2 separate regions of the Homo sapiens genome follow, and region 1 is linked to region 2. Evidence: fine-mapped expression QTL. A gene starts in region 2. The other region holds a variant in brackets. All regions are shown on one strand. Distances are between the middles of the regions. Region 1 overlaps SPATA1 (spermatogenesis associated 1). Region 2 holds the start of SPATA1 (spermatogenesis associated 1).

Region 1 (2,920 bases), 42 kb before region 2:
GAAGAAAATATCAGACCCCTTAAAGGCAACATTAAGCTGCTGACTGTATCTCCTCAGCAATGCTCCTCCTATTACATAAGGTCATGAGTTTTTTTATTGTTTTAAGCAAGTTTAAGTCAAAGTTAGCCTAATGCATCTTGTGATACTACTAGCACTTATAAAGCATGTGTTTTGAACAGAACTTCTCTAACGGAAGGGGGATACATTTAGTAATACCTTGGAGTCTGTGATGTTTGCCAGATTCTTTGGTCTCATCTTGATCTCCCTGGCTTCAAGTTGCATGAGCAGTTTTTTATAGTAGAGTTCCAAATCTTCTCGAAGTTTTGTTAAAACCTCCTCCATTGATGCTGTGACTTTCTTTGTTTCCAAGTATTTTTTCTTCCAACCATTGTAGGCTATAAAAAAAAAAAAAAAAAAAAAAAAAAAAAAAGGAAAGGCCTTCGTTTGAGTATTAAAGGATTCAACTTTTCATCCTGGAAAGGATCCTAGAGCTAATGTCAATTTAAACCATTTTCCTCTTTCTCTCCTCTTCTCCTTTTTTTATATACTGAGGTCATTAGACCTGAGGAAGAAATGTTTTTTGGATTATAAGAGAACTTGTATAGAAATATAGTAATATATATATATTTTATAGTAATATACATTACTATAAAAGTAATATATCTAAAAGTAATACATTGAATAGTAATATATATTATAAAAGCAATATATATACTTGTTATATATAGTAATCTATAACATATATAAAACTATAACATATATACATATAACATATATAACTATAAAAGTAATATATGTATGTTACTTTTTCCCATGATTATGGAAAACTGATCCAAAATTAATCATTAGAAATTAAACACTACCAGTTTAACAAATTGCATTGATACCAATGAGATTCTAAATACAAACTTAATAGGAACACAAACTATATGCCAGTATACCAGAATTTGTTTAGTTTCTTTCTTTTAGATTATCATAGAAACAAAAATCTCAAATTTAAAAATTCTACTTTATAAGGTGATTTAATTAAAATTATATAGCTACATGGAACTTTAGCTCAAGATTTTGGATATTTATCTCATGCTCTATTATCCAATCCCTTAGCAACTTCTACCGGTATTACTGCCAAAATACTTCTAGCATCTAGCATATTCCACCTTCTTCAATGCTACATCCTTAGTCAATGTCATCTTTTACCAAGAAGTCTGCATTCTCTTTCTAACTGGTCTGTCTGCTTTCATTCTTGCCCCTGTACAGGGTATTCTATACAGCAGTCATTCTGATCTTTCTAAAATATTTTTTAAAATCATATAAATCCCTAGCTCAAAATCCTCTAGTGGCTTCCTACCTTGCTTAGAATAAAATCCAAAATCTTTGATTTGGCCCATTTATTCCTTGCTGACCTTTCTGATTTTATCCCCCTCTGCATTCCTTCTTACGTAGTGTTTCAGCAGCACTGGTC[G/A]TATTTCAGGCCCTTAATGCCACAATGTCATTCTTATTTCTTGACCTTGATATTTAGTGTTCCCTTTGTGCCTGCCTCCCTATTAATCAAATCTTAATCTTCTCAGAGATACTTTCTCTGAAAATTCTACCTAAAGCATCTCTTCCCTGCCTCATCACTCTTTACTATGCTCTTTTTAATTGAATTCTCAGCTCTGATCAAAGCTGATATTGTCTTACTTGTTTATTGTCTGTCTCTTCCCATAGGGAAGCAAGCTCCTTATGGGCATGGCCATGTCTGTCTTGTTCACTGCTGTATCCCCAGCATTTAAAACAGTGCCCGGCACATAGTAGGCTCAATAAATATTTTATGGCCAATACATACCTTTTATCTTGAAATATTCCTGTTGAAATAGGAAGTGATGGATCATTCCCATTTCATAAACAGAAAGGGTGAGGCACAAAGAGGGGAAGTAACTTGTCTAAGTAAAAGATAGATCTGGTGTTACAATCCTGGTCCTGTGATTTTCAGTCCATTGTTCAAATCTGTCTGATAAAATTGCTTTTTTAACATTACAACAAGGCTGACTCATTGCCACCACTTTCAGGATAACACATTGTAAAGCAGAATCTTGAGAAGTATCTCCTGACATTGTCTATAACCTTCAATCAGTTCTAGTGCTGAAACAATTTTGCTGTAAATTGAGAATCATAAAACCACTTAATTCCATAGATACCTTTTATCCTTATAATCCTCAACACAACCCAAAACGGAGGCCTCTCAAATAATTTAGCAACTCTCAAGCCACCATCATGTACTGTCTTCATCCTGCCTCATCAGTCCACCAGTCCTAACAACACTGTTTCTAATTGTACTGCAAGAAAACTTACTTAACTTCCCTCATTCATTCACTTTTAAAAGCAAGGCACACACACACACATATCAAAAAATTAAGTACAGAAGAGACCAAGGGACTCAAAGTAGGCTTCTACAGTAAGTGATATATAAGGTGATCTTGACTGACTAATAGGAAATAGGCAGGTAAACTGGGAAGAGGGTACCTCAAGGTAAGAGGAGAAGTAGATGGCAGAGGGAAAAGCATGCCCGAAGACCTAGAACCAAGAGTGTACTTCAGATCCTAGCATATCCAACACTTTTCCTGGAAGCCTCTCTTGATCTCTTCCATCTAATTTAGGCGTTCTCCCTTTGTATTCCTATCCATAGAACTTTGTAATTCCTTTATCATAGTTTTCATCAAGTTTTTTTTTTTTTTTTTTTTTTTGAGGCAGAGTCTTGCTTTGTCACCCATGCTGGAGTGCAGTGGCACAATCTCAGCTCACTGCAACTTCCGCCTCTGGGTTCAAGCCATTCTCCTGCCTTAGCCTCTGCAGTCACTGGGGCTACAGGTGCCCACCACCACACCTGGCTAGGCTAATTTTTGTATTTTTAGTAGAGACGGAGTTTCGCCATGTTGGCCAG
Region 2 (2,920 bases):
CGAAAAACAACTCTACGAAGCTGTATAATTTACTTTGAAATAAGGAAATAAAGCCTCAGTAACTTAAGTGGCTTGCCCAAGAATACCGTAAGTAGCAGAGCCAGAATTCAAACCCTGGTTTTAACCCCAATCATTACATCCGTATGAATTAAGTAAAATGCTAAACTTACGATGTACATTTTTGCGAACTGATATAAACTGTTGAGTAAATAAATTAGATTTTGTTGACCAGTGCAATTACACATGCTTCCCTAATAAAAAATTTGAAATCCATTAATGATAAAATTATTAACATTAATGGAAAACATCAGCGCATTCGGAGATTGACTACCCGAAAAGAAATAGGAAACATCTGCCCTTAGTGCTGTGACATAACACACATATTTCCGTGGATGAAAGAAAGACCTACTGGCTGAGCCTATTTTGTTTGGTTAGACCCTACCCTCTCTCCTAAAAACTCCTTTGGTACTCAATTTCAAGCAGGAGGTAATAAATTACAACGGAAATACTAAAGAGCAAACTTTCCGGAAACACAAAAATAAGTTTTATTTTAAAAAGTACAATAAGCATTAATTCTCCAGAGTAAATGGGTAACCGAGCAGACAGGTGTAATCTTCAGCCAGCACCTTGGCTTCTTCACAATCTCCTTCAGAAAAACCGATTCAAGAGCTAAGAAGCCAGTAAAGTCAAACCTCGAGAAGATCCCTTCTCCAGCGAATCAGCGCCCCTGCTCCCCGCCCGCCCGGCTCCGCTGGGTACGCGACAGCGACCTCCGCGCCTGCTCTCCGCCTCGGGTCAGCGGGGCTGGGGGTTGGGGGTGGAACTGAAAATGCCTGTTGGCCAAACTCGGGTCACAGAGAGACACGCCTGTACGGGGCGGGGGTGTGCGGGTGACTCACGCCGGGTGCACAGTAGCTCCTACGCCTCACCCAGTATCTCCCCTCACTTCCCTCAACCCTTCCCACAAACTGGGAGGAAAACTGAGACCTCCTGGTCACCCGCCGCCGGGCCTTTTAGAAACTCCCACAAGCTCTGCCTTCCCTCCCTGGTCCTCTTCAGACCCCCTCTTAGTTCTTCGCGGCTAACGGTAAGCTCTCTCCTTACCTCTCCCTAATCGGCCCCTCTGGAGAGGAAAAGAAAACTTAAGAGTCGGGTCGCGCTAGCCTCCAGCAGCCGCCGCGCCCACCGACTGCTCCGCCCCTTCTCCTCCCCCTCCTCCAGGCTCGCGCTCGGGGCCGGGTGTGGAGCTGGAACAGAGGGCTGGCAAGGCGCGCATGCGCACCGAGGGTGGAGCCGCTGAGCACAGAACCGGAAACTTAGAGACAAAGTTCGGAGCCCCGCCCCCGCCGCGCGCCGCTGAGTTGTCTGGCCCCGCCGACCCACGGCCCACGACCCACCGACCCACGAATCGGCCCGGCCGTCGCGTGCACCATGTCTGGCTCCTCCAGCGTCGCCGCTATGAAGAAAGTGGTTCAACAGCTCCGGCTGGAGGCCGGACTCAACCGCGTAAAAGTGAGCGGGGGCGGGCGGCCGAGGCGGGAGGAAGGCGGCGGCGGCGGGTGGGATCCGGCGGCCCAGCTGGCGGGGGCGGGCGGGACACGCGCCGGCCCTCGCTTCCCCTGGAGAGGACGCGCGCTCAGCGGCGGCGATCGGGGAGCGGCCAGCTTTAGAGCAGGCGCCGCGTGGGTCTACGCTGTGTTTTAGGGGGACGATTAGTTCGCCCTTCCGCCCCAGGACTTTCCGAGGCGGGCTGGCCCCTGGGTTGAACCGTGGCCGACATTCCGGTCCTCCTCCGTCTCTACCTCCCTTGGCAGCCTTCTCGGCTGGTCTCACCAACAGCTGCGCCTCCGCGCGCTGTCCGCACCCTTCCTTTCCCACTTTGCCAGCCTCCTGTTTCTCATCGGACAGGGTATTTTCCGACTTTTGATTCAGAGCAGACTTTTCTCCCATTTGATCTTTCCCAAACCTACTTCCTTTAGTATTAAATTCTTACCTTCAACTTCTCTTGTCCGTTGAACACATACTTTTAAGCGAATTATTGCATAACTTAAACTGTGGATTGAATAAGCATTTTTCGAAACGATCCTGGAGTGTAAAGTTCCGGTCAGTGCCCCGTACAACCTCGAACAAAGCGTGCATTTCATACCTATGGCACAGTTTGCTCATATTTGACCTTGGGGATATCGACTGGTCCGCATGCCGGAGAAAATGATTATTGTGGGTAATTATTGGTCTTATTTTGGCGTCTGGTTAGTATTGGCCTTGTCTTGGGGTACTTTGGGAGAAAAAGCCTTTTGTCTGTGTTGATAGAATAACTTGACATTCAAGTGCTGTTCTAAGTATTTCCTGATTTTTACAGTCCTAAATGGATTGGCTTCTTTCTGGTACAATAGGTCAGGCTACATGTGAAACACTTCTGCAGTTAAAAAAAGAAACAAGAATGTAAATCATGTGCCCTGTTAAAAGCAGCCAGTTCCTAAGATGATTTGATTTTATACTCATCAGGCTAGTCTTTATTACTTGCCGAAATGTTTTGTGAACTGAGAGGGTCTCTAAGCTTTCTTAACTAGAAGTGTCAGAGACCTAGCTTACTCAGTTGTGGTCACCTCAGAAGGGAAGGGAAATTCTCATTCGTCTTGGTGCAGGATCCTCCTGAGAGAGAGTCTCCCATTTAGTTTTGTTAACTAGAAATGTCAGGGACCTAGCTTACTCAGTTGTGGTCAACTCAGAAGGGAAGGGAATTCTCATTCGTCTTGGTGTGGGATCCCCCTCACGTCCAGTCCTTGAAATGCTGTAGACCTCACTGCAGTTTGGAATCCATTTCTCTACTCTCCCAATTCTTACCTCATCACAGTGGTTTCTAGTCAGTCTTGGCTGGATTTGGCTCTGAAACTCGAAATCATTTATTTCGTAACCATTA

The links.
Region 1: its variant is fine-mapped to the expression of SPATA1 in lung (TOPMed, PIP 0.97).

Annotation. Positions count from the first base shown.
Region 1 is chr1:84,546,261-84,549,180 of GRCh38, reverse strand. It overlaps SPATA1 (spermatogenesis associated 1), which reads right to left. Exons shown (of 14, transcript NM_001397487.1): 11 at 217-395. Among named protein-coding and RNA genes, the nearest start is that of CTBS, 27 kb to the left of the region's middle. The variant G/A (reference allele first, on the strand shown) is at 1,463.
Region 2 is chr1:84,504,603-84,507,522 of GRCh38, reverse strand. SPATA1 (spermatogenesis associated 1) reads right to left here and starts at 1,137. Exons shown (of 14, transcript NM_001397487.1): 1 at 1,105-1,137. It overlaps GNG5 (G protein subunit gamma 5), which reads left to right and starts at 942. Exons shown (of 4, transcript NM_005274.3): 1 at 942-1,087; 2 at 1,222-1,512. The coding sequence starts at 1,432. RefSeq lists silencers at 1,217-1,296, 1,547-1,676.